Regions from separate parts of the Homo sapiens genome. Here all the other regions are reported to be linked to region 4. Evidence: microRNA targets listed by miRTarBase, many of them from high-throughput screens and not tested one by one. Region 4 holds a microRNA gene; each other region holds the end of a gene's coding sequence.

What was found. The annotated mature microRNA hsa-miR-4709-5p reads ACAACAGUGACUUGCUCUCCAA and lies in region 4 at 2,678-2,699, shown strand. An mRNA with a match to its seed (bases 2 to 7 or 8) in the 3' UTR can be bound and repressed. Matches are read on the target gene's strand: a 7mer-m8 pairs with bases 2 to 8, a 7mer-A1 pairs with bases 2 to 7 and ends in A, and an 8mer does both.
Region 1: miRTarBase lists RASSF4 as a target of hsa-miR-4709-5p. Seed matches in the 3' UTR shown: 7mer-A1 at 2,811-2,817.
Region 2: the mRNA of VSIG10 is a reported target of hsa-miR-4709-5p. Seed matches in the 3' UTR shown: 8mer at 226-233 and 7mer-A1 at 122-128.
Region 3: miRTarBase lists NALF2 as a target of hsa-miR-4709-5p. Seed matches in the 3' UTR shown: 8mer at 2,953-2,960.
Region 5: the mRNA of IER3IP1 is a reported target of hsa-miR-4709-5p. Seed matches in the 3' UTR shown: 7mer-m8 at 2,372-2,378.

Annotation. Positions count from the first base shown.
Region 1 is chr10:44,991,597-44,997,800 of GRCh38, forward strand. It overlaps RASSF4 (Ras association domain family member 4), which reads left to right. Exons shown (of 11, transcript NM_032023.4): 10 at 309-406; 11 at 1,673-4,295. The coding sequence ends at 1,733. It overlaps LOC124902530, which reads left to right and starts at 2,440. Exons shown (of 3, transcript XM_047426129.1): 1 at 2,440-2,575; 2 at 3,209-3,345. The coding sequence starts at 2,440. It overlaps ZNF22-AS1 (ZNF22 antisense RNA 1), which reads right to left. Exons shown (of 4, transcript NR_126421.2): 4 at 2,336-2,610. RefSeq lists enhancers at 1-97, 127-628, 629-1,128.
Region 2 is chr12:118,064,231-118,070,190 of GRCh38, forward strand. It overlaps VSIG10 (V-set and immunoglobulin domain containing 10), which reads right to left. Exons shown (of 9, transcript NM_019086.6): 8 at 4,147-4,367; 9 at 1-2,464. The coding sequence ends at 2,409. The region is part of intron 1 of LOC124903030 (a long non-coding RNA gene); the gene reads left to right. Among named protein-coding and RNA genes, the nearest start is that of WSB2, 6.0 kb to the left of the region's middle.
Region 3 is chrX:69,528,366-69,534,569 of GRCh38, forward strand. It overlaps NALF2 (NALCN channel auxiliary factor 2), which reads left to right. Exons shown (of 3, transcript NM_015686.3): 2 at 628-799; 3 at 1,206-4,143. The coding sequence ends at 1,591. Among named protein-coding and RNA genes, the nearest start is that of NALF2, 27 kb to the left of the region's middle.
Region 4 is chr14:74,476,670-74,482,873 of GRCh38, reverse strand. It overlaps MIR4709 (microRNA 4709), which reads left to right and starts at 2,670; the gene lies at 2,670-2,741. It overlaps NPC2 (NPC intracellular cholesterol transporter 2), which reads left to right. Exons shown (of 5, transcript NM_006432.5): 4 at 2,095-2,172; 5 at 2,586-2,934. The coding sequence ends at 2,600. It also overlaps a transcript of SYNDIG1L not described here and the pseudogene RAP1AP.
Region 5 is chr18:47,153,507-47,156,506 of GRCh38, forward strand. It overlaps IER3IP1 (immediate early response 3 interacting protein 1), which reads right to left. Exons shown (of 3, transcript NM_016097.5): 3 at 1-2,726. The coding sequence ends at 2,671. Among named protein-coding and RNA genes, the nearest start is that of HDHD2, 4.5 kb to the left of the region's middle.

The sequences.
Region 1 (6,204 bases), not on the chromosome of region 4:
GCTCCCACCTCCCTACCCCCTAGCCCAGAGGGCACCCAATGTGACAATGCTGCTGTACTGAATGCTCTTCCTAATATTCAGTTTAATATTTCCTCCCAGGGATAACAGTTGCCTTTGAGATAGTAATAGGCTCCCGTCCTGGCATCTGTACACAACACAGCAGTGTGGGGGTGGGGTGGGAAAAGCGGCAGCTCCTTCTGTGGATACAAGATGTTGGCTGGATGGGCCACTATGGAAGCCTTGAGGAAAAGAAAACATACTTTTGGCTTCGAATTTAAAGCACATTAAAATGTTCTTGGATTTTCTAGGTCGCTCAGTACATTAAGTTTGAAATGCCGGTGCTGGACAGTTTTGTTGAAAAATTAAAAGAAGAGGAAGAAAGAGAAATAATCAAACTGACCATGAAGTAAGCAGCACTTAAACAGACAGTCATGGGTCCTGAACATCAGGGCAGGTCTGCAAAGCACAGCACCAGTGCCGGCTGGGAGGTCTCTCTCCTCCATGGGCACCAGTACCCTGGTACGGGAAGGCCTGCTAACCCTAGCTCCCCAGCATCACCCTCTGGCCCCCTGCTCGGTATTGCCACCACGCTGGGGTGACAGCTTGCCAAAACAGTGGGACACAGCCCCGATCACCCATCCAGTCTTGGCATCCTCACCAGCGCAGGCATGAGCTGCAGAACACCTGGCAGGAAAGTCAGGCAGGAACCCAAGTGGGCGCTGGGTCAAGCTTCTGAGTTCTGCTGGTGATGTGGCTCCAAGGAGCAGGCATGCTGAGGCAGACTTGGCCTGATTAGGGCCTTTTGTCCTAGTGGGAATTCTGAGCCTTCCCCAAAGTGGCAGATGCTGGAACTCCCAGCCTCAGCCGATGTTTTCAGGTGCAGAGGGCTAGTTCAATGAAAAGGTGAGCAGGTCTCACCTGCCAGCTCCTGGGGACACCACGCCAGGGTCCGGATGCATGAGTTAGCCAGGCTGTAGTCCCAATGACGTCTCCCCCTCAGCAAAGTGAAGTGTGGTCCAGGACTTGTGGAGGGCACCCCACCAGGGCTGGTGGGGAGGCAGCTAGGAAGGAAAGGGCAGGAGCTCACTGAGAGGGCCTGGGGTGTGTGGGGAAAGGATGGATGTTAGCCTCTGGTTGAATGACCCGTGGAAAGCCACATCCTCCACAGGCTCCTGTCTGTGCAGCCAGACCCCAAACAGGCAGAGGAGACCAAAGTCAGAGGGAATCTTCCATTCTGCAGTCAGTCCTGACCCCGTAAGATTTGAGAGCTGAAAGGGATCTGGGGGGCAACTAGTGGGTCCACTCAACGTACAGAGTGGACGCTGAGGCCCAGCACAAGGAAGGTTGCCGCATAGGTTATGGCAGAATCTGGGCTGAAACATGGGCTTCCCGATCTCTGCTCTACCGCCCTGTCCACTCCAGTGTGCTGTTGTCTGTATTAGAGTCTGCAATAGAAATGACAACACTCTGCTCTGATGCTCTGTGCAGTCCACAGCCTGGTTTGACTGCACCTCATGAGGCGCAGGCCACAGCCTTCCCCCTCCTTGGCAGAGGAGAGATGAGGCTGCTGCAGGGATCTCCTGAGCTGGCCATCTGCAGGTCCCTTGCTCTGCTGCCCACCTCCCTGCCCTGTCTGGCCTCAGTGAGTCCTCTTGGCGATGTCTCCCTCCAGGTTCCAAGCCCTGCGTCTGACGATGCTGCAGCGCCTGGAGCAGCTGGTGGAGGCCAAGTAACTGGCCAACACCTGCCTCTTCCAAAGTCCCCAGCAGTGGCAGGTGTACACTGAGCCCTGGTTGCTGGCCCCGGCCGGTCACATTGACTGATGGCCACCGCCTGACGAATCGAGTGCCTGTGTGTCTACCTCTCTGAAGCCTGAGCACCATGATTCCCACAGCCAGCTCTTGGCTCCAAGATGAGCACCCACAGGAAGCCGACCCAGGCCTGAGGGGCCAGGAACTTGCTGGGTCAGATCTGTGTGGCCAGCCCTGTCCACACCATGCCTCTCCTGCACTGGAGAGCAGTGCTGGCCCAGCCCCTGCGGCTTAGGCTTCATCTGCTTGCACATTGCCTGTCCCAGAGCCCCTGTGGGTCCACAAGCCCCTGTCCTCTTCCTTCATATGAGATTCTTGTCTGCCCTCATATCACGCTGCCCCACAGGAATGCTGCTGGGAAAAGCAGGGCCTGCCAGCAGGTATGAGATCTAGCCTGCTTTCAGCCATCACCTTGCCACAGTGTCCCCGGCTTCTAAGCCTCCAATATCACCCTGTGAGCCTCGCACAGCTCAGCCCCAACACAGAGGTGAGACCAGGAATAAGGCCACAAGTATCTCACTTTCTCTGCAGAAATCAATCTTTACTTCATCAGAGAGACCTAAAGCGATTCTTACAAGGAGCTTGCTGCAAGAAACACGGTCATTCAATCACATTGAGGAGGGTCCACATGGCATTGAGAGGGTGCTGCCCGCTCAATGCCCAGCAGCAGCTCTGGAAGGCAGTGCTCAGCCCCATCACCACTGTCCCGTGGATGCCTGTGTACCTCTTGCCTTTTCTGGGCTTGCGTTTCTCTCCTCTAGTGGGTGGGGATGACTTTCAATGACTTTCAATACTTCCCCTGAAGGAAGAATGATAAGGAGAAATGTCTGTTTTGAGGAAAGGGCTTTGAATTCCCCAGATACTGAACAATTTGTGTTTGTGACTGATGGAGAATTTCAGGAATGAATGAGAAAGCCTTTGCGAAACTATGCAACAGTTTACATCAGTCATGTGAAGTATTTGTCTAAAACAGAGCAAACTGAAGACCAAATTATTCTCCTGTTGAGGTCCGTGGATGGCAGATTTAAAGGGAAGAACCACAAAGGCTTGCAAAGATAGGAGAGGCTCCATCTCTAATGCATGTAGAAGCTCCTTACGGGTGCCCATCAAGAGCATAGCTTGGAAGCCACCATGCTGTGCGGAACTGCGTCAGGGCAAATGTCACAGCAGGATTTCCCCAACCCAGCTCCATCATCACAGACACAGAGAGCTGCAGGGGAGGCCTGCCCACTGTTTTGTCGACTCTGCCCTCCTCTGGCAGCATAGATCCTTAGGTGCTCAATAAAGGTGTGCTGTATTGAACTGAAGAAGTGAGAACCAAGCTTTTTTTTTTTTTTTTGCTTTCTGTGCATCCACCCTGACCCCCGGCTCTAACTTCTGAAACTCTTATCCTAAAGGATGTGTGGCCATGTTTGGCAGAAGAGCCACAACTCGCTGCTCTAGGAGCCGACATGACTCCTTCATTTCTGTGCATGCCCTGGGGACTAGGGTGGAGCCTGAGGAGAGGCTGCCATGGAACACGCAGGCGTCACTGGTGGGAGCCTAGAGGTGACCTGGATGATGAGCAATAGAGTCACCCCGAGTCACAGAATCTTAGCATCAGGAGGGCCCCAAGAATCTTCCAGGCCAGGGGCTCAGGTGGGATGGAAGCAGGGCCTAGGAGAGGGTACAAAACAAATCAAACAGGAGCTCCCAGGTAATTGTACTCCCAAGCTATTATTTACAATCTCAGGTGGAGGACAGCTCCTGTCCCATTGTTCAGCTGTAACTGAGTGACTGCCTTGTGCCAGGCCTGTGCTCAGCCCTGGAGGCACAAAGATGGAGCCAGTCTGTCCTGTGTCTAGGGGTCTTCTCATCAGGAGAAGAAGGCCAGACACTGGAAGGGTCAAGAGATCAGCTGAGCAACGAACCGGCAAAGCTCCTGGGAGTGAGGTGGAGGCCAAGGCAGAGTTGGCTAAGAAGTGCATGTGGCGTCACAGGCCAAGATGCACCTGCCAGCTAGGAGCAGGCCAGGTCCTGGCACACAGGAAGCCAGTGGAGCAGGAGACCCTCCCTAAGTACCAGCCTGTTTGGTTGGTTGGTTTGCTTTTGAAAGTTATTACAATATTATTTAAGGCCTTTTCGGATAAGTTCACTTTTAAAGTAGGTGTTATCAATCTAATTTCTGAACGTTATGGGTCAGAAAAATCACTAGCAAGTGGCTCAGAAAAAGGGAAAAGGTACACTTCTGCAATCAGCTGAGGAGTTCACACCTTTTTTTCTAAATCAACATCATATTTGCTGTTCAGAGGCAATCTGAAAAGCTGCAAATTCAGCTCACCTCAACCCCATAATTTCAAACGTTAGAGGCTGGTCTCTGTGGTTTCCTACTGGTTCCTGTGGGGAGCTCCCGCTTTCTTTCTACATAGAGCTTAGGGTATTTCTCATATGCCCCATTGGCTACCTAGTGTCTCAGGTAATAAACGTATCCGAAGATAAAGCAAAGATTGCTATGGGAGAGTGTTGTCTCCTAAAATAGGACTGTCTTGCCAGGCCAGGCCTCAAGAACCAGAGAGAATAATAAACAGCACAGGATGAAATCAGCATGATTGCAAAAGGACTGGACTCAGGAAAAACAAGTTTGTTTGCCCAGAACAAATTACCAGAAGGGATCAAAAACATCTTGTTTTTCTTTGGTGATAACCATATGCTACCGGATTGGAATGTTTACCAGAAAATGGAATAAAGACCTTCCCACTGGCAAAATAGAGCCAGGGTTCACCCAGGATACATCTGGCCCCTTAGTCCCATGGAAACAAGGCCCAAAGCTTATCCAGTCTGACCAGATGATTTGTGGAGGAACCAGCCCTGCAAAATGTGTCCCGGGTGTGTAGGACGCAGGTGCCTTGCAGCTGCGGAGGGGCAGCGGGATATCCTTGCCAGGTGCAGTGGTGGGCAGCATCCCCCTGCCCTCAGTTCCTCAGTGGTGATCAGACAGGAAGCTTGGTCGATCAGAGCCAAGCAACTGAGTATAAAAACAGCCAGATGCATGGGCTATATTTAGGCCCTGAGAGCTGCGATTGTTTGGGATCAGGCTAGCTGCTCACGTGCCCTGCCTGAGACTCACGTTGTGCAGGGTAGGGCCCTGTGCCCTCCTGGTCAACTTTTAACAGAGATGTTTTCTCAGACCTAGGAATGGGAACTCCCAGGGTTTTCTTTCCCAGAGAGTCCAAAGGAAACAGAAAGCCAAGTCTCAGGCTTGGTGGAAAGAACCATTGTTCAGGATCCCTGGGCTGAGAGTTCTTGGTGGGAGACGGACCACTGTTGTTACCGCACATGAGCCACACCTATAACTGCCTTTCTGGCACTTGGGCTGGGGATCCATGTTGCCAAACACAGACCCAAGGCAGCAGTGCTCCCTGCTGAGACAGCGTGTGTGTGTGTGTGTGTGTGTGTGTGTGTGTGTGTCTGTGTGTGTGTGCGCAAGCCAGTGGTGTGCAGGGGACAAAGACATAGGAAAATGAAACTGTCTTGCCAGGATTTTTCTCACCCCAGAAGACTCTTTTTCCTGGAATGAACCCTTCAAATACCACTGGGCTCAGGGACACACTGGTCCCTGCTGGGTAGTTTCCCAGAGATGTCCCAGCCACTAAGGGATCTGGCCTCTCTTGGGCCAGAATCCCCAGAAATATGTGCAGAAAGATGCCCAGACTGTGTCCACCCCCTGCCTCCCACACCCTTGTTCCCTTTCTCCCTTGTGTTTTGTAAATATCATGCGTGACCATTTTCAATAATTTAATTTGCATAAAAATTGCCTAGAATCCCATTTGGGAGATAGACTGTTATAGAGAGGTTAATAGGCTCTGGAGCCAGGCTTTCTGATTTCAAAGTCTGGCTTTGCCACTTACAAATGTGCATGACCTTGGGCGAGTTTCTTGCCTCAGTTTTCTCATCTGTGAAATGGGGATTCTGTGTGGAAGAAAACAAAGTGCTTTCTACTATTCTCTCACTCAGCAGCAATAATCACAAAAGACTTCTGTGACCAAACGGGGTGAGGGATTCTCCCCACACACCAACCAAGCAATCATTTCTGCAGGGACACCAGCTGGGTGTCCTCTAATTCAGTTTTGACACTATCTACTTGGAGATGGCATCACCTCCCATAGGTTGAGGGCTCAGTCCCATAAGATGGTCTCCACCCTTCCCATTAGTTACAAGCCCTGGCCTCTGGAACTTGTGAACTACCCACTTCAAGTTGGGATTCTCGTGACCCCCTCCTTGGGTTAATTTGCAAGAGCGGTTCACAGAACTCAGCGAAACACATTTCCTGGTTTATTACAAATGATATTCCAAAGGATATAGAAAAAGAAATGCATATAGTGAGGTATGAAGGAAAGGGTGCGGAGCTTCCATA
Region 2 (5,960 bases), not on the chromosome of region 4:
TGCACACAGGACTCAGATATGTGACAGCAGTCACAGCTCAGCTGGTCAAAGGTTTATAGTGTTTGACACCAGGACCATGAAGCTCCCATTTGGTAGTGGAAAAACCCTCAAATATTTCCTATCAACAGATGTGTGTGCTAGAGAAGAGGAAGTTGTGGAAAATATCCCAGTGATCCTACAAAACATTCTCTGTGTTCCTAGCTAGGGTTTTTTTTTTTTTTCACCTCAACAGTTTTTGTGTTTTCTTTTTTTAATCTTGTTGCCTCTGAGTAGTAGACTCTTCAATTCTGGAATTTGGTTGCCGAAGACTCTAAAGGAGAGACTCACTCAGTAATTCAGTGACTTTAGAAGCAAGCTGAGTATCTCATTCTAAAATGACACTGATTTACACTGTTGAGAATGGTTAAGTACGTGGGGTACCTTGCAGCAAAAGACAAAAAGCAAAAAGCCAGTAGACCTGCAATTCACAGCTATTCCTGAGGGGTGCACATTGCAGCCCACTCTTGAGCTCCCCAGTGTTCTGAGCAGGGGACAGGGCATACTTCTAGTGATTTGCTCAGTTTAATCCCTTCATCCAAGAAAACAGACCTTCCCCAACCACACCTGCAGGGTTACTTCAGACAACCAGCTTCTCATTTTAGAGTCCCAGTTCCTAGAATTGGAGAAAGGAAGTTCCCCTTTAAGCCCTAGGTCCTGCCCACTAGAGCAGATACGCAACATTAAAGAGTGCAAATTCAAGTCAGTTTTTCATATTTAGCAAACATCCATTGCACCCTTATAAGGTCCTCGACTTTAAGAAATTTATATGAAATCGGAAAACTTAAATCTTGAAACTATACAAGGATCTACTGGAAGCATCAGCAGGCTAAACTCATCACATGGTATTTTCATTCCAAATTTAGTGTTATTGATCAGTGTACCCTCAGAATATCCTTAAGAAGCAGGAAGGAAACAAGTTTTCCTCTTCCCACTTCCAAGACTGAGAAAGAGTCCAGATGAGCTGGTTTGCCCAAGCAATTCTTATCACCAGATACTCCGTTATTAAACGTGTCTCCTGCCTTCTTTGAAAGCAACAGGAGAAATGAAGCATAGGAAAGTCTGCAAGCTAACAGTGTATCACCTAGGAGGCTTGTATATAAATATGAAGCTCTGCAAAATGTAGTTATAATGAAAGGCACTTCCTATTACCAGCTCCCTAACTCTTTTTAAAAGAATTCTATCTCCAGGGAAATAAAACTGGTTAAGACAGTGCTCTGATATGCTTAGTTTAGTTCCTTCATCCAAGAAAACAGACCTTCCCCAACCACACCTGCAGGGTTACTTCAGACAACCAGCTTCTCATTTTAGAGTCCCAGTTCTTAGAAATGGAGAAAGGAAGTTCCCCTTTAAGCCCTAGGTCCTGCCCACTAGAGCAGATACGCAACTTTAAAGAGTACAAATTCAAGTCAGATTTTCATATTTAGCAGGTGATCTTACAAAGATATTTTTCAATAAATGGATTATGTTTTTCAATGAATGGATCTTACAAAGATGTTTTTCAATAAATGGAAGGAAAGATGTGTGTGCTTGGTTTTTTTGCTGAGACCCAAATGTTGCCAGTGCAATCCCCCACCAGGGGTACAGGTCAAATCAAAGCTGAATGAAGAGCTCATCTTCGATGTAGCTTTCCAAGCTTTCAGAACGAGACAATAATAAGTGAGCAGCTTCCTCATCTATTTTACAGGTGAGGAAATTGAGGCCAAGAGAGAGGTAAAGAGTCGTGCTCTAGCCCATGAAAGAAGGAAGCAACAGAGCCCAGATTCAACTTCAGGTGTTTCTAACTCCAAAGCCTGAACCAAACTGCCTTCCTCTGATTGGCATTGGTACCTGGAACTTCACCTGTTCCAAGGAGCTGATATTTGCAAGGTGCCGTGGCTGAGGCAGGAGAATCGCTTGAACCTGGGAGGCAGAAGTTGTGGTGAGCCAAGATCGTGCCATTGCACTCCAGCCTGGGCAATAGAGGGAGACTCCGTCTCAAAAAAAAAAAAAAAAAAAAAAAAAAGCGGCAAAAGGCACCAAGACCCAGTGCTTCCCTGACCTCTGTTCCCTCTAAATCAGCATCTATCACAGTAGATCAACCTGGATAAAGCCAGGATTCACAGCAGAAGTGGCACCTCAGACACCAAAGCAGCTTTCCTTCTCAAAGCTTTTAAACATCATTGGGAAAACTTAGAGCAAATCAAACCAATGTTTTTCAATACATGGAAGGAAAGATGTGTGTGCTTGGTTTTGTTTTTTGCTGAGACCCAAACATTGTTAGTGCAAGCCCCCGCCAGGGGTGCAGGTGGAGTCAAAGCTGAATGAAGAGCTCGTCTTCAATGTAGCTCTCCAAGCTTTCAGAGCAAGACAACCATGGACCATCCTCTTCTTCAGACTGGCCTGTCTTCTTCTTGAACAATGTCACTTTGCTCCTCACTGCTGTCATCTGTATGGGGGGAAATAAACCCAATGCTTTGTAATCAGAGTGTGATTCTATTTCCACCGTCAGTCATCAATCATCTCAGTGATTTCTAGTCCTTTCCTGGTGAGCCACAGAATGGGATCTCATGGAGAAGGTAGGGCAGCGTGTGTTTTCCCCTTTTCACCTGTTTTCTACATTCAGAACCTCTAGGCATGCTTGATACCAGTCACCCTTCATGTCCTCAGCTCACGCCCCTCCCCTCACCTGAAACGCCCTCTCTCCTTTCTGCTTATTCCAACTCAGCCGTCTTAACGCCTTGCTTCATGTCTACCTCTTCCATAAAGCTTCCCCTGACCAGCACACCTCTCCGGGCTCTTATCTTTCTCTGAGGTCCTATAAATTTTGGTGCAGTGGCACGATCTCATCTCACTGCAGCCTCAACTTCCCAGGCTCAGGTGATTCTCCCACCTCAGCCTCCCAAGTAGCTGGGGCTACAGGTACATGCCACACACCCAGCTAATTTTTTGTATTCTTAGTAGAGACACGTTTTGCCATGTTCCCAAGGCTAGTCTCGAACTCCTGAGCTCCAGCGATCCACCCACTTTGGCCTCCCAAAGTGCTGGGATTACAGGCATGAGCAACCGTGCCTATAATTTTTAAATGTGTTGTCCATCAGGCAATTAATCAAATATCTTCCTGCAACAGCTCCTCTACTGCTCTCTCAGTGTGTTGGTTCAATCTTGCTCCTGTTTCCATTTCCCCTGCAGGTTTTAGTTTGTTCCCCTAAACTGGCCTTTTTTTTTTTTTTTTTGAGACAGAGTCTCACTCTGTCACCCAGGCTGAAGTGCAGTGGCACGATCTCGGCTCACTGCAGCCTCCGTCTCCCGGGTTCAAGTGATTCTCCTGCCTTGGTCTCCCAAGTAGCTGGGATTACAGGCACCTACCACACCCAGCTGATTTTTGTATTTTTAGTAGAGATGGGGGTCTCACCATGTTGGCCAGGCTGGTCTCAAACTCCTGACCTCAAATGATCCACCTGCCTCAGCCTCCCAAAATGCTGGGATTATAGGCGTGAGCCACCGCACCTGGCCTGAACTGGTCTTGTAAAGCTCCCTGCATGCAGACACTACCAGTCTCTATTTTCTGTTCTCCCACAATGCCAATATTGTGCCTACCCTAGACCAGGACCTTGATAAGTGTTTGTCAATTTGATTTTCATGTTGGTAGTTGATAGTAGTCTCAGGTTCTAGACTAAAGTTTAGCTATCTTCCCCAGCCTTTTAAAAAAACTAAACTCACCCCTTAGAGATTTCCTGCTGGGAAGCTCACCGCAGCAGTTCAGAGGTTTGTGGGCTTTTTTTTTTTTTTTTTTTTTTCTGAGGCAGGTTTCCTACTGCTGCCCAGACTGGAGTGCAGTGGTGTGATCATAGCTCACTGCAGCCTGGACTTCCTACACTCAAGTGATCCTCAGCCTCCCAAGTAGCTGGGAACACAGGTGCACACCACCATGACCGGCTAATTTTTCTTTTTTTTTTTTTTTTTTTTCGTAGAGACAGAGTCTCACCATGTTGCCCAGGCTAGTCTTGAACTTCTGGGCTTAAGTGATCTTCCCACCTTGGCCTCCCAAAGTGCTGGGATTATAGGCGTGAGCCAACGCGCCTTTTTTTGTTTGTTTTCTGTTTGTTTGTTTAAGGAAAAAGAGCTTACCTTGAAGATCCTGGAATCCATTTCCCATCTGTTCTATGTTCCCATTCACCAAGGCGGTCACTCTGTGAATGTGGTCCTGCTTAGGTATTTCTTTTGGCAACTCCTCTCTCTCACGTGCTCCCTCCTGTTCCCCTACTGCAGCATCTTCCTCCTCCTCCTCCTCCTCCTCCTCTTCCTCTTCTGAATCCACCAAAACCATGACATCATCCATGTTTTGTCCCCTAATTTCCAAAGGGGAAAAATAATCAAGAAGATTTCTTATTTTTCCCAACTTCAGCCCTCACTGAATAGGAAACACTAGATTCTTTGCAACCCCATTAGTAATATGGAAAATTACAGCTTGGTGAAGTAATGAGGTGATGGTGTGGTAACCGCAGAGATGCTGCCACAAATTGCTTCAGATGATGGTATCTCATGCTGGTTTATTACTCCCCTGCTCCTTGGGCAGGTGACCATATTGTCCCAGGCATCTACCATTTCATGTCCCCTTACAGCAGGTAGACAAATGTTTTTCCTTTTCTGAAATGCCCTCATTCTGCTCTACTTACCAAAATCTCTCCCCTTCCTCATTTTGGAAGACCCAGGTAAAGTCCTCTCCCTCCTGCTAAAGACCTAAATTAATGACTGCATTTAGAGTCCATGCTATAGTTTATTTATCACCAGCTCACTAGCTTGCCTACCCAGCCAGACTTTGCATTTCAGACTATACATTTCTTTTTTTTTTCTTTTTCGGGATAGAGTCTTGCGCTGTTGCCCAGGCTAGAGTGCAGTGGCGCAATCTTGGCTCACTGCAACCTCCACCTCCTGGGTGCAAGCAATTCTCCTGCCTCAGCCACCCAAGTAGCTGGGACTACAGGCATGCGCCACCACATCTGGCTAATTTTTGTATTTTTAGTAGAGACATGGTTTCAACATGTTGGCCAGGCTGGTCTCGAATGCCTGGCCTCAAGTGATCCAACCACCTTGGCCTCCCAGAGTGCTGAGATTATAGGCATGAGCCACTGTTGTGCCCGGCCTGGACTGTGCATTTCTTCTTCTTCTTCTTCTTCTTTTTTTTTTTTTTTTTGAGACAGAGTTTCATTCTTGTTGCCCAGGCTGGAGTGCAATGGCACAATCATGGCTCACCGCAACCTCTGCCTCCCAGGTTCAAGCAATTCTCCTGCTTCAACCTCCCAAGCAGCTGGGATTACAGGCATGCGCCACTACATGCGGCTAATTTTTTGTATTTTTAGTAGAGATGGGGTTTCTGCATGTTGGTCAGGCTGGTCTCGAACTCCCGACCTCAGGTGATCCACCCGCCTCGGCCTCCCAAAGTGCTGGGATTACAGGCGTGAGCCACTGCACCCGGCCTGGACTATGCATTTCTTAAGGAAGAAGAATGAACGCCACAGGTCAGTCACCTGCCCGAGGAGCTGTGTTACATTGTCATTTAATCTTCACAAACCCCCTGGTGAAACAAATCAGGAGACTAAGGCTCAGAAAGGGTCAGGGATTTTCTATGGGTACAGGGCTTGGGAATGGCACAGCTGTCATTTGAACCCAGGTCCAATGGTCTCAGTGCCTTTTCCTACTACACCACACTGATGCCTCCAGTGAGAAATAAGCCCAGGGAATGACAGACTTACTAAGAATGGCCCTCCAATACAGGGCAGTAAAGGTAATGTTTTGCTACGAAAGATGGTCCCAGGTCAATAATATCCTGTCATTTTGAAGAGGTAAAGAACTGTTTTTCCATAGGATCATAGAGAAGAGTACTCTGCTCCCACCCAGAATCTCCTTAGGAAATGAAATACACAAGTTCCGTTTGGTTCCTT
Region 3 (6,204 bases), not on the chromosome of region 4:
GTAGAGCTCAAAGGCACATGTGTTGCCTGGTAAGGCAGGTTCCTGGTTTTTTTTTTATTATTAAAAATAACCCCTCACATTTACATTACACTTCAGAGTTTACAAAACATTTTCATATATGCCATATTATTTCATCCATACAACACCCTAATGAGGTAAAGCAAGGATTATTCTTTCTCTTTCTTGAATTTAGAAACTCAATACCATCAGCCAAAGAAATGTTTGCTGAATTGAACAGAACTGACATTTGCCTCATTATATATAGGTAGTCTCAGACAAGTCAGATACTTCCTTGGACCAAGTGTAAAATGACAGGGTTGCATGGAATGATTGGCAAGGCTCCTTCCAGTTCTGACCTTCCAGTAATTTTGTGATCTTTGCCAACACACAAATTTTGAGTCTTGGATGACTGCAGACTGGGGTGCTTGGGAGTACTGGCTATGAAATCGGAGATCTTAGGTAAGATGCAGTGGCCTTGATCCAAGCCCTTCTTCCTCTCTACCCCCTGGATCTTGGGGTTAGGTTGGTGAGGCCCCCTTGAGAGACCACAAGTAAGTCCTCCCATCCCTCTCCTCTGAGGTGGGAAGGGGCTGGCACATGGGCTGATGCTCTTTCCTCTCCCCACAGGCTGTCTACAAGGCCTGGCTGTGCTCAGAATACTTCAGCGTGACCCAGCAGGAATGCCAGCGCTGGGTGCCCTGCAAGCAATACTGCCTGGAGGTGCAGACCCGGTGCCCCTTTATACTCCCCGACAATGAGGAAATGGTGTACGGAGGGCTCCCTGGCTTTATCTGTACAGGTAAAGGCAGGGCACTGGGGAAGAGGGAGGAGGCCGGGGGCCCAGGGCAGGCATCAGGTCAGAGGAGTTGGGAGCAGGGATAACAACAGGGGAGTCAGGTGAGAAGAAGGCCAGTGGCTGGACGAATGGGCAGTGACGTCCCCAGGTTGGGATAGGGCCAAGTGGAATAGGGAAAAAGACCAGAGTGTCCTTCTCTGCCCAAAACATGTCCAGGGAGTCATCCCAAAGAAACTGGCTGGGGTCCCCAGGAAAGAAGGGCTCAGAAAGGGCAAGTGTCGAGGGCTGTGGGGAGGGAGCCTTAGATGAGGCTACTTGAGCAGCCCCAGCTCTGGAAACTTGCTCCCTAGGTAAGGCATAGCTATCAGCTCCCCGAGCACCCCACCACACCTTCCTTATCCATTGGCAGGGTTGCTGGATACTTCACCAAAGCGTCTGGAAACCAAGTGCTGTGACGTGCAGTGGGTCTCCTGTGAGGCGAAGAAGAAGAAGTTCAAGGAGTCTGAGGCCCCCAAAACCCACCAGCAGCAATTCCACCACTCCTATTTCCACCACTACCACCAACAGTACCATCACTACCACCCCCATCATGATCCCCCAGGCCGTGTCAGCAACAAGCCCGCCCTGCTGCCGGTCTCTGGGGGCTCCCGCCTCAGCCCTAGCAGGATCCGGCTCTGCGTCCTTGTTCTCATGCTCCTCCATACCGTGGTGTCCTTCTCCAGCAACCAGGGTGGTGGGGGATTGGGGCTGGAGACACTGCCTGCCCTAGAGGAGGGCCTGACACGGGAAGAGTGACAGTAGGGAGGGAGGACAGACCTCCACCACACTGACATCAGCTCCAGCTCCCCCAGGTTGGGGGGGAGGGGGCTCCTCCCATGGGAGGTGTAGGATAAGGTGGGGGCGGGGGAAATGGGGGAATGACACATCCCCCCCAACCTACCCCCACCCCAAAAGCAGCTCCAACAGAATGGCCAGAGGGCCTCAGGGAGCTGCAAAACTCATCCAGGAGAAAAAGGCAGGAGCAGCAAGTGACCCCTCCCAAGCTCCCATCTATGGGGCTTAGCAAAAAAAGGGAGGAAGTGGGGGCTGGATATGCCCACCCCTGCCAAAAGCCCTGACCCCAGGGAAGGAGGCTGCTCACCCAGCCTTGGCCCTGCAGGGAATGTTGGGGGGCACAGAGGGGAGAAGCTCTTTCCCCCACTCCACATTCCTTTTGTTGCCAAGATCCTTAATTCCCTCCTGCCCATATCCCTACAGGCGACGGCAGACAGTGCAATGGCCCTCCTGCCACTTCAGCACACCTTGCCCCACCTGGGACCATCACACGTGAAGCACCAGGCTGGGAGATGAGGTGCACACAGTTGCAGCTAGGTCGGGGCCCCAGTTAAGCTGTGCCCCACCACCCTAGGCAATGAGGGGCAGGAAAGGGGTACAGAATGAATGGTGAAAGAGAGTGGAGATACGGAAGGGGGAGAGGAGAGGAGAAATGTGGACAGAGGGCTTGAAGACATGGCCGAATAGGCTACTGCCACCCGGCTTTGGGGAGATGGGCGATAAGTGTTGAGGTAGGCTCGAGAACTGCTCCCCAAATCAGTGAGAATTGCATTAGGAGCCCTCTGGGGAAAGAGCACAGGAACTGAGTTGCTGGGCCTCAAAACAAAAGGCTGCAGGCACATGGTTAGACTGCCGCTGTCTGAAGGACCATATCTTACAGAAGGTGCACATACTCCCAAGGGCCACTCTTGCCCTGGAGATCTTGGCCTTGGGGCCAAAGACATTTCCATTTCCGATCTCCATGGGGAGGAGGGACTTAAGCCCAAGTGGGTCAGGCCTGGCCCAGGTCCTTATACTCCCCTATCTTGTCCTAGCCCAGGCCTCCATGAAGGAGAACCTGGTGGCATTGCCCCAGAGCTCTCCAGAGATGAGCCTCCCCTATCCCCACCCTGTCCCCGTCCCCAGCCTACCAAAGAGTATTCACACCTTTCCATCCCTGACTCTATGGGTTACTGTCCCAATTGCGAAACACCCATACTCCTCTTCACCCTGTAGCAGGGTCTTCTGCTCCAGTCACCCCGGCCTCTTGCAAGAGAAAGTCCAGGGACTGGCAAGAAGACCCTTTGACTAAAGATAATGTGCTGTCATATCTTGGCTGAGAAACTGTTGAGTCAGGCTAGAGGACTGGACAAGAGAAGAGGCATTGAGAGCCCCCTTGGGAGCCATTAGCCTTGCTCTGGTCTGCTGTGTGGGGTTGGGGAGTAGGGGGGATCCCACATTGCCTGGGACATCTGAATGCTGATACGAATGGACAGGAAAGGGAGCCAGAGCTGTATACCTGGGACAGGCCAGGGAGCCTTTAGTGCCAGCAGGGCCTGTGTCCTGGGATGTGATGCTAGTGAGTGAATGGGAGGGCGGGCCTGGAGCTGCGTGAGAGTGAAACCAAGAAGCGGATGGGGAAGGGAGAGCTGGCCTTGGTCAGCTTAGGGATGAATGGAGAAGGAATCATTCATGGGCCTCGGCTAGGTCCCAGACTGATTACATGAGACTGGGGAGTCCTTCCCTGCCAGTTTTCTCATTTATTACAGCCTATCCCCCAACCCTACCCCTGTGCCCTGCCTACACACTCCCGTTTGGCCCTCAGCACTTTGGGCCTGGTCACATACCCCATCCCTAGAGTGCTCTTTTCAGCTGGGGAGGGGAAGAGGTGCTGGCTCCTTTCCAGACATGCTTATGTATAAGTAAAGGGGCAGGTGCTTGGGCTCCAGAGAGACCCTAGGTACTGCCTTCTAACTCCTGCATCCTCAGAAGGGGAAAAGGGACTGGGAAGTAAAGGGAAACCATATGGCCCCAGGGAATGGACCCTTGGAGACTCCCATCCTCTCTTCCCCCTCACCAAGTGCCCAGGAGACCCCTGGCTCAGACCAGCCCAAGGCCTTGCCCAGTGGCAGGGGAAAGGGGCACCTCACTCCACCTCAAAGTCATTTGACTGCCCCCATCCACCCCACCACCCTAATCTTCCACCACCTCTCCGGCTGCCCCTGCCCTCCATCACAGACAGCAGAGCCGGGCAGCTTTCTTATGCCATTTTCTACACTGTGCTTCATGAGTAGGACTTTCTTGCACTAGTTCCTATGACTGAGTCTCCAAACTGGTTTCCTAGTAGTCCCCCATCCCTTCCTCCCTTACCCAGCTATGATTCAGTTGTCTCTGCCCTCCCTCTTACCCTGCCTCTGTGTTTCGGTGAGAGTCTCTGTATATGTACTGCTTTCTGTTTTGTTGCATTGTGGGGCAGAGGCCTCTCTGCTCTTGTTTAACCCCATAAAGAAATAAATGGTAAGACTTGATGATAACCCTCCCTTCATGGCTTTGTTCTGTGGAGTTGAGCTTGCTGCATTAGGAAAGTCTGTGGCTTGGGGAGGGGGTGGGACCAGAGATGTTGACCCTGTGCCCAGCTCTCTGTCAGCTCAAATCTCAGGAAGAAAGGGTAGACTGTAGTAGACCATTCAAGACAAGGACTCACAAAGCCAGCCACCTGCAGGGATCAGGCAGATCACTGTACAGAGTGAAGTAGGCCAGGTTGGGGAAAAGTGCAGACTCCAATTTGAGTGCTGAGAACTGCAGGACATGTGCAAAGGAGGCAGCTGAAGCCCAGGGTTGTCTTGGGGAATGTAGGTCCAGTGTTGCCAATCTTCTCATTCTTCAAGGGAAGTTAGGACTGGGGATTCTAACATGAAGCCCCCTAATTCATAAATGTTGGCTCAAGTATAAAAACTAACAAACCTACCTCCATGAGGGCTAAACAAGTCTGTAGGCTCTACATGGCCTGGGGATTGCCAGTTCTTGCTTTTGTTGCAGCCTTCAGTTCTAGTCTGCCAGCCTCATCTCTCCTACACCTCTTAACCAGACCCATCGTCCCACCACAGAAGGAAGGTCACTTGGCGACAACTGCTGGAGGGGTGGAAGACAGGGCTCTCCATCACTAACACTGCTTTCACATAAATGGGGAAAGGAGAGCATGGTCAGGAGAGAGGCTGGTGTCCTGACTGAGCTGCCAAATTACTTTTCCAAGAAAACATGAGCCCACTCCACTTCCCCAAAAGCAGCATAACATGGAGGTCACAGCATGGTCGCCGGAGCCAGACCATATGAGTTCCAAGTCTAGCCAGCGCCATTGTTACGGCATCTTTGGGGTGTCACTTTTCTGGCCGGAAACCTCTGTGGTCAGTGACACTTTTGCCCAAGTTCTTGTCCTGCATCCAGGAAGAATGAAGTATGCAGACAAGTGGAGGGTGAGCAAGACAAAGAGGGGCTTTATTGAGTGTTAGAACAGCTCAGAGGGGACCCACAGTGGGTAGCTCCTCTGCAGGCAGGTCATCCTGTCATCTCTGCAGCTCTCAGCAGAGAGGAGGCCCTGGAGAGGGTAGCTCCTCTCTGCAGCTGGTAGTCCTGACATCTCTGCAGGTCTCTGAAGCTCTCAGCAGAGAGGGTAGCTCCTCACTGCAGCTGGTCATCCTGTCATCTGCTCAACTCTGGCTGAACCCAGGGCTTTTATGGGCCTCAGAGGGGAGGAAGTGTGCACCGATTGGCCCATGGGCAGCCATGGGCAGGCCCAGAAAAGGCACCACAAGTTCCCACTCCAGTCTGTGGGACTGGCAGCCTGGCCCCCAGCCTTCAGACCCTTGCTGGCCTGAAGGTGGGGCCTCACCGGGGACCCGCCCCCTTTCACCAAGGAACCTATCTGCCTTCTGCTGCTGTTCATGGTGCCCAGGCTTGGCCCAACTTTGCTCCAAGATCAGAAGAGGCGCCAGCAGCAGGGAGAAGGCAGGCAGCGGGAGCAGGCACTTTTGAGCCTGCGAGCGCAGGGGGGCCTTCCTGGGCCCCTACAAGTGCTGGGATGCCTGAGTCTGCAGCCATGGTTTGGGCGGCTGCACTGTGCCTGGCGGAGCAGGGCTCCTGCCTGCTCCATGGAGCAGGAGACCCAGGTCTGCAACCGTGGTTTGGGCAGCTGCAGCTGTGCCCAGGAGGGCAGGGCTCCTGCCTGCTGTCAGCCCCTCAAGAGCACGGGGATGCTCAGATCTGCAGGCACGACTTGGGCAGCTGCAGCTCCACCTGGGAGGGTGGGTCTCCTGCCTGCTTTGTAAAGTAGGACGCCCAGGCCTGGGGGATAGGGCTCCTACCTGCTCTGTGGAGCAGGAGGCCTGGACCACACCTTCCTGCTGCAGCCGACATCTTGGCAGTGGCCACTGTAGATGGGCCACTGCTGCCATCACCATCTCCTACTTGTATGAGTTTGAGCAAGAGTTCCTTTACTTCCTTGAACCATGGTGTCCTCATCTATCACAAGGGTTATTGTGAGAATTAGACCGTGTAGTACATGAAGCACTTGGCAAAACAGCTGGCACAAAGGAGCC
Region 4 (6,204 bases):
TCCTGCTTCGGCTCTGCACAGCAACGGCTGATGCCATTTTTATATACAATATTTCACTTGGATCTCATGACCATCCTATGTAGAGGTGATATTATCTCTATTTTACAGCTGAAGAAATTTGAGCCTCTGAAGTTATGCAATATGAACAGAGTCCACTCCACTAAGAAGCAGTGGAGCCCAGGTTTTGAGCTGGGTCTTATAACTCCAAAGCCTGTGCAATGTTAAAAGATTTTAGCCAGGTACCAAATAATTAAAGATCCAAGTTGTCTTAACATTGTCATCAGAAAATCCTGGTTTCTCCATTAATCTCTTAACAAAACAAGAGAGCAGTAGTTTGTTAGCTCCATGGCAGAGAGGTAGCTTTTTCCAGCCTTCTTTCTGCCCTCCAATCCCCACCTTCACCTCTGACCCATCCCTGCTGCACCTACCTCTTTTTCTACCAAGCACTCATAAGGTAGATCCTGCTGCAGTGGACCTGTATTAAAGATATGTATCTTGATAAGAATGGAGGAAATAGAGGGATGGCCTTTTTCCATGAAGAAAAAGAGCCGCATTTCTTGAAATCAAGTAGAACTCAGGAGCAATATCTGGCCATTTATTTTCTAGGAAAGGTAAGTAATTAAAGAACATTCTAAAGAGACTCAAATATAGGATGTCTGTGCTTAAGGGCTGTTGGAGACCTTAGAGGTCAGGGACAGATTAGTAGATGAATATCCACATAACCATGGGCATGTCTGAACCTCAGTTACGTATGCAGTGACTAGTCAGAGCCTGATACGTAGTAGGTACTTAATGTATGGTAGTTATTGTCTGTTAAATGAGTTACATTTAATTTGAAAAATAGCTCAAACTGCTTAAGCACTAAATGAAGCAGTAGTTAATGTATACTAGTCTGGAAAAACTCACAAGGCAAGTTTCAAGAACCTGAATATCAGTGCCACTCACATGTTCCATTGTGAAGAAACATTAGAGTACAAAAGAGAGGTAGTAACTAGTGACAAGTAAGCTAATGTCCACATAAGAAAGGACCTGCAGAGTGTCAGTGAGTTATCAAGAATTGGAAGGGACCACTCACGTGATATGAGTGTAACAAGTCAAGGCAGGGATTTCTGATGAAGTACATTATTAGAAAGCAGTTTAAGGGCGTTAACTGAAAGTATATTGCTACAAAAGGTTGTCATCCTTGAAATTATTCATACAGCTACAGACTTCTCTAGGCCATCTTTTGTGCTTTGACATTTCCATTTCTAGCTAACAAGAACGTTTCCTTATACCTAAGAATCTAAATTTTTTTTACTCTCTGCTCTTCATGGTTACATTGGGAAAAAGCTGGATCAGATTGCCAAATACATGAGAAATTGCTTAAATGTGAAATTATTCATGTAAGCCTTCATGTGTTAGTCCATTTGCCTTGTTGTAAAGGAATACCTAAGACTGGGTAACTTGAAAAGAGGTTTGATCAGCTCACGGTTCAGCAAGCTGTACCTGAAGCATAGTGCCACCACCTGCTTCTGGTGAGGCTTCAGGAAGCTTACTGTTAGGACAGAAGGCAAAGGGGAGCCAGCGTGTCACATGGCCAGCACTAAAGCAAGAAAGAGAAGGGGGAGGCCCCAGACTCTTTTAAACAGCCAGATCTCATGTGAAGTCAGTGAGAACTCACTCATCACCAAGGGGACGGTGCTAAGCCGTTCATGAGGGATCTTCCTCCATGATCCAATACTTCCCACCAGGCCCACCTCCAACATTGGAGGTCACATGTCAACATGAAATTTCAAAGGGACAAATAACCAAACCGTATCACTTCATTTATATGCCATTGATCTAAGAGAGAAGAGAATGCTTTAGAAATTACATTTGATAAATTAACCAAGTTAGTATGTGGTGCTGCTAGCATCAAATCACAAGTATAACTTTGTTCACTCTCTTAAGGCTGTAAGCTGTGCCCACATGCTAAGCAGCCCTCATGATTTAAGAAAAAAAGTATGAGGAGTTAGGAAGTTTGCTACTGTACATCTAGGATTCATAGTTAAACCAATTATGGATAGAAGTCAGGTCCTATTTTCATTTTTCTCAATTATTTTTCTCTTTCTCCAGATAAAACTGGTGGTGGAGTGGCAACTTCAGGATGACAAAAACCAAAGTCTCTTCTGCTGGGAAATCCCAGTACAGATCGTAAGTCTATCTGGGGGTGAGAGGGCATGGGTGGAGGGAAGAAAGTGGAGGAGAAATCAGACTGAAACTAAATCAGTGCCATAAGATAAAAGGAATTTCAAGACTGCTGTTTTATGCCTCTCAACCTCTAAAAGCATCTGAGACCCTATTTCCTGAGAGCTCAGAACTGTTGCCTTTGTAATATCCTTTGTTAAAAAAAAAAAAGGTTGAAGGAAAGAAGAGAGAGTGAGACTGTAGAGATTGATTTAACTGTCTTCATTGGTTTTTTTCTGTCGGAGTAAGGAAGGTCCAGCCAGACAGGACCTGAAGGAGGTTGCTTAGGAATGTCTGATAACTTGCCCTAGGGTTATTGCCCTGACAGTGGAGGAAAGGTTCCAAACCACTTCCACTGAGCTGGGACATTACATCCACAGGTTTCTCATCTCTAAGTGCCTCATTGAGTTCGGTGCATCTGGCCAATGAGTCTGCTGAGACTCTTGACAGCACCTCCAGCTCTGCTGCTTCAACAACAGTGACTTGCTCTCCAATGGTATCCAGTGATTCGTTGAAGAGGAGGTGCTCTGTAGCAGAAACTGAGCTCCGGGTGGCTGGTTCTCAGTGGTTGTCTCATGTCTCTTTTTCTGTCTTAGGTGGTTTCATTAAATGCAGCACTTGGTTAGCAGATGTTTAATTTTTTTTTTAACAACATTAACTTGTGGCCTCTTTCTACACCTGGAAATTTACTCTTGAATAAATAAAAACTCGTTTGTCTTGTCTTCTGCATGTGGGCTGTGGTCTTCTCCTGCTCCTTTCAGGGTACATTCTGCTAGAACCATGGAAGGCAGGCCCCCAGTTCCGTGGTCCCAGAGTGCACTGAAGACATGACTTTTTCAGAAACTCTTTTTCCTCCTTTTTGTCCAGTAAGACCATATCTATTTTATATAAAATGGCCTTGTTTTGCTTTATTTGACACAATCTTATACCACCAAGCATGCTCGAAAGAAGCAGTGAAAGTAAAAATCACCTAGTTGAATAATAACGCCTGAAAGGTTGAAGGAACTGAATTTGGTGGGGAGGGCAGGTAGGGGTTAGGGATTACAGGTTAGGATGAGGCATGGTGATCTTTTGGGAACACTGCTGTGAAGAAAGCCTAGAAGCTTAAAAATGAAATGTGAAGTTGTAGCAAGTAATGGCTAAATTAATTAAATCTTGGAGTTTCCTATCTTAAAGTACAAGTATAATCATGGGCATATATTTTGCCACCTATTTTGAGTCAGTATACTAGCAGTCAGCTCTTAGGTGGTACAGGGATTACAACCCCATTCACAATTGAGTTGAATAACATGGACCTTAGGTCATCCATTGTTAGGGCAAAAGGAAGGAACATTCATACAAAGTGCTTGTGAGCAAGTGATTGATTTGATCCAGTTCTTTTCATCCCACTAATTTCACTAGACCCTTGGATTTCTTTGGTCTGTGAGTTTCCCAGGAAAACCACCAGGGGACAGTGATGGATCAGGAATACAGTTATCAACAGCCAAGCTTTCCTAGTTAATGCTAGGAGCCAGTCAACCAGTGTACTTTTTACCTAAGATCTTTTGTGTATCCTGCCACATTGAGTCTAGAGTGACAGTCCACCTTGTCTCCCATACCAGACTCTAGATGTATCAGAATTGTGTGAATTCCTGAGGCTGTTAACTGTTGTGCGGGTCTCTGGCTTCGGACTGCCTATGGTTGAATCCTGGCACCAACAATTAACAGGACTACCAGTGTGATCTTGAAATCACTTCATCTCTCTGTGTGTCAGTCTCCTTATCTGTTAAATAGGACTAATAATAATAGGGCTGTGAAGACTAAATGAGATGAGGCATGTAAAACACTTAGAATGACCCTGGCTATAGTATATACTCTCTAAATGTTAGCTGTCACTCTGGGAGACAGACATTCTTCTTTGTCTACAAATAGCAGGAAAATTAGAAGGTTCAATCTGAGATTTGATGATGTCTCCTCAGAAGGATGAGGCTATCCTCTGTGCACAAGAACTTTCTGAAAGGCCTGGAAAAGCTCAATTCTCATGTGTCCACTGTCTCCCTATTCCCAGAAGATTTCTCATGCCATTTAGCTCCTTTGAAGTTAACAGCTACCCACCCTGCATACTCCTCTGCCCTTGTGTTAAAAGAAGACAGGACTCACAATACCATGCAAAATGAGTACTTGCCTCTAGCTAGGAACAGTGCCTACTTCAGGGAGAATTGATTTTGATACAGCTGACTAGTTTGAGTGTTAAACTATTTTGGAAATAATTTACATATCTAAGTTCTAAAATATATTTTTCTTTCCTCCACTTATTCTTCAAATTTGAAACAATGTTTTAATACTGTATATCTTTCATTGTTTATAACTTGCATTCTTTGTGAAAATTTGTTCTTAGGGACAAAAAAATTCTTAATCTTTTTATGTGTAAAGCAGGAACAGACAGATAATACATAAACAGATACATATTATATCTGCGGTATTAAAATTTGGTGGGGTGGTCGATTAGGATTAAAAGGTCCATAAAAGCTCCTGTAAGGAGTGATAATGAAAAGGGTGGGGAAGCACTAAAGACAAAGAGTATAAGTAGATATTTCAGAAATCGAAATTAAAAAGTATTTCGGCTAGTTTATACCCTTCCATCAGAGCAAAAGGGGAACACAACAGCTTGTGACTGTTTGCCAGCCATCGCGGGGCTACATGAAGCCTGCAGCCGTGAGCTAGGTAGGGCTCCCGTGGGGGGATTAGTTTGAAAGGTCGTCTTCTACAGACAGTTCACAGACGCCCCCGTGAGTCATTAAAACATTGAGAAGCACTGAATCTTAGGTATATCAAAAAGGTCATCCTCTTTCCAATGACCGTCTCATGCTTTTCTAGTCCACGGAGCAGGTTTTGGAGGCTCAGCTCTTACATGAATTCCAGGACAGATAAATCCCAGATTCTAATTGTTGAAATAATAATGAGGGGCACCCCTGCTTATAGAATAAAGGGAACCCAACACCTCATATCTCCAGTTTGGGAAAAGGTTAAATATGAAGACTAGTATTCAGTCAAATCTTCATACTAATAAAAAGCAACAAGCATGGAGTAATTTTAAATCCTGCATATTTGGTTTTTAAATCTTAGTTGACTTTTTTTAAAAGGAACAGAGTGATCTTTTTTTTTTTTAACACAAAGTCTTTCAGAAAAGAAACAGGGTGATCTTGATTATGCTTTGGAAAGGTTGATAAAAACAGCTTGTTCTCTGAGAACACCCTCCAGACATAGGAAGAGTGGCTTGAAATAGGTGAGGTCAACTAAGAGAAAATGATCTGGGATCAGCCATTCACTTCAGATAATCCAAAAAGCAATGGTTAAATGGGTTGGTACAAGGACAGGGTTACAGTATATAAGAAAAGCATTAGCACAGAAAAAGGAGTCGTGTAAGAAAGTCGCCAAGGTGAAAGTCACGTTAAACAAGTGTTTTTCCCAAGGAAGAGACAGAACAGGAAATAGAGGTTGGGGTATGCCTTATTTAAAGGCCTGGAACACTCAGGCGAGGGTGTGTGTGTGTGTGTGTGTGTGTGTGTGTTGGGAATGGGGCTGGGGGGAGACAGGGTTGTGTGTGTGTGTGTGTGTGTGTGTGTGTGTGTGTGTGTGTGTGTGTGTGTTGGGAATGGGGCTGGGGGGAGACAGGGTTGAGTGACCCAAAGTAGAAAGTGGCTCTGGATCTCCACAGATGTTGCCTGAAAGTCTTTGAAGGATTTGAGTCATTTTGGGTGGTTGTGTCTTTTTCTCTGAAGAGAATTCCTCAGCCTATCCCTAGATTCTAAACTGAATCCGATTCACTTACAGCTGTCAGTTGACTAGCAACTAAATGGTCTGGGTGTTGGTTGCCATGGAAACAGCTAAAAGGCCCATTGCTATGGGAACCTACCAGGCTCTCCAAACCAGGGGTTTGGTTCCTAAAAAGGGGTGGAGGGGAGGGTGGAGACCAGGAGATGGCCTGCATAGGTGGCTCAAGGGTCCTGGAAGAGGGTG
Region 5 (3,000 bases), not on the chromosome of region 4:
AAGCCTAGTACCCAGTAATTTTTCTGGCACTCTTTCTCACCCTCCACCCTCAAATAGCCCCCAGTGTCTGTTGTCCCCCTCCTTATGTCCATGAGGTCTTATCATTTAGCTCCCACTTATAAGTAATAACATGTGGTATTTGGTTTTCTGTTCCTACATTAGTTTGTTAAGGATGATGGCTTCCAGCTCCATCCATGTTCCCACAGAAGGTATTATCTAATTCTTTTTTATGGCTAAAGCAGGGATTTTTATAAGATACTTTTTAGCTATATTTTTGAAAATTTAGGGTTTTATGGAAATGCCTTGGGAAGCCTGACAAGAGTGCAGTGGAGGCTGAATAGTGAGCCTTTGAATCCCAGCTCTACTTCAACTAAAAACAAATAAATGGACCTACTCTCATCTGGTTTAGATACGGGAATGTTACAGTTCTGTGTCAGAATTCCTTTGAAAATCTGGTTCTGCTGTTAACTATAAAAGTTTGAAAACCACTGTACTTGATTAGCGATGAATTTGGTTAATATCTACAGACTAGAGCCAAGAACCTTCGCACAGTTCAGAGACATGCAAACACAGGGCCAGAATACATAAGGACTATAAACATCATCGGTATTTGGAGTCCAGAATCATCACAAATTGTTAATCCTGGTAATAGATAAAGGGGAGGACATGGGCAGGCCAACAGGCACTTAAGTTACTGTCTACTAAAATAACACACTCTGTTTACTGAATCACAACTGCTCTGGGGAAACCAGGGCTGACCAGTGAAAGCTTACAGACCCCTCTTCAGCCACAAACTGGAATTATGAAGTGGCCTCCAGATATGACATATTTTGATGTTCAGTTCAGTGCTTCACTTTCCTCAGAACTACTTGGCTACAGAATACTTTGATCCTGGCCCTTCTGTGACTGCTCCCTGATGGAATATTTGGACAAAATCCCAACACTGAATTAAGATGAAGGTATGCTGTAATGTCTTATATGAAAAATAACATCAGATCAAGGTCTCTCTTTTCTTTCATTTTAAAAAATTTTGTACTGCTCATACCATATGGGGAAATGGGCCTGCCCTCAAGTAACTGCTTCTTTTGAATCTTTTCAGTAGCTCAAACTTGAACTCAGGCATCAGTTCTTTGTAAGGCTAAAAGAACACGGCCTCTAAGTACCAAATTAGTCATTCACATGAGCCAAGTAATCAACTAAGAATCCTTGGTACTTTCCTTGGACTAGCTGCAAGCCTATAGTCCAAAGATCACTGATCTCTAACTTAGGAAAGGCCAAAAGGTACTTAATACCTGCTCCATAGTTTTAGAAGTAACTGAAGTCATGAAATAAAAGGTGCTCATGAGTCTTCTGGATGTATGTCAGCAATTCAGTTAATTCACTGAAGAAAAAAAAATACATGTAAATATTTACTTTCATTAACTCTATACTCGGCAATTTTACAGCAAAGAACATATAATAAGAGGTGTTCACCCAAAATGGAGATTAATGCAGTTAACACTGACAGGTTTATACTAAGGTACAAAAACAAGTGCTTGACTTAGAAATTTAACTTTATTTACAAATGTTCTCCTATAAACAAAGATGCCATTCTACACCTTTAAAATATTGTAACTGATAATTTCCATAAAAACCATTTACATAGTTTCAACCTTTCTGCATAAAACTGTATTATGAGATAGGCAAACAATCTCACAAGATGGTCTGAGACATAAAAACAAAAGACAACCTATCCAGCATCAATGTCCTATTGACAAACTCAATGAAGAATTAAGAATCACACTCCACAATGTGCTGCTCCACCAAGAAATAGAAATGTAATGATTTTTTGAAAGGTAAATGCTTCACAATAAACAGTCTTCTTGGGTAGTACAGTGTAATTGTGATTGTTTAGGACTGCTCTTGTGGGCTAATATTTACGCTGTTGTTTTTTTTAAATCATCATTGTAAAAAGGGCAGACTTATAGATTTTTCTGACAATGAAAATCTGTAGACACTGGTCTGGTCTCATCATTCAGGCAAATTAATAAAATAACAAGTGCATGGAAAGAATGTTAAACAAAAACATAATCATCATGTGACTGACAGAATTCTCCCTGAAATCAGAGAATATTAATACTCAATAGTATGTATAAATTTGAATTTATAGCTGAGACAATAGACAAAATAATTAACCAAGGAGCTTAAAATAAAATTATTCAAATTACCTATTTATCATTTTATGTGCAGTAATTACTTTTTAAAAATCCTTTTAATTTTATCTAGGGATAACCACTCACATCATGGCTAAGTTGCAAGGAACTTCAAAACTTTGAAAAAGAATTTCATCCCTGAGAAGTGAGAGATAGAAAAATATCTAAAAAAAGAGAAGCAACAGTCTTGCACCCTTTTAACAATCTCACCACAGCATGAACTACTATTAACACTGAGCAATCAGATATTCCAGTCCTGGAGAGTTACTGCCTTTCATGATCTGATCTTTTGTAATGAAACTACAAGTGCAACATTAAAAAAAAAAACAGATAAATAGAAACCCTGGTTTTATTTTCAGCTTTACATTTTTGACAAGTGCAAGGTCAGCCAGCTAAGATATAAATATTCCAATAATGACCAAAGTAATAACTTCTACTGGCATGTCCTCTTCTGAGTCTCCATTTTCTCCACTGATATTCATCCAAATAATAAAAGTAACACAATTGCAATTGAGTTTACTATTATCAATGGCACTGTAAAGAGAAAAAAAAAAGTTTGTTACTATAAAGAAAAAACAGAGAAAAAACCAGAAAATAATAATTAGCCTCCAGGAACAATAGAAATATCTAACAATATGTCATCATAATCATGTTGTAAAAAGTTATAACAAAGAAACATTCTAAAATACATTGGATCATGAGATCCAAAACTTATTTTAAAGAGAACTTGTATAACTGGGAGTAAGGGTTGCACTGGAACAGCTAGATCAATGTGAAACATCTGTGGATAGTCCCGGTGCAACCCCAA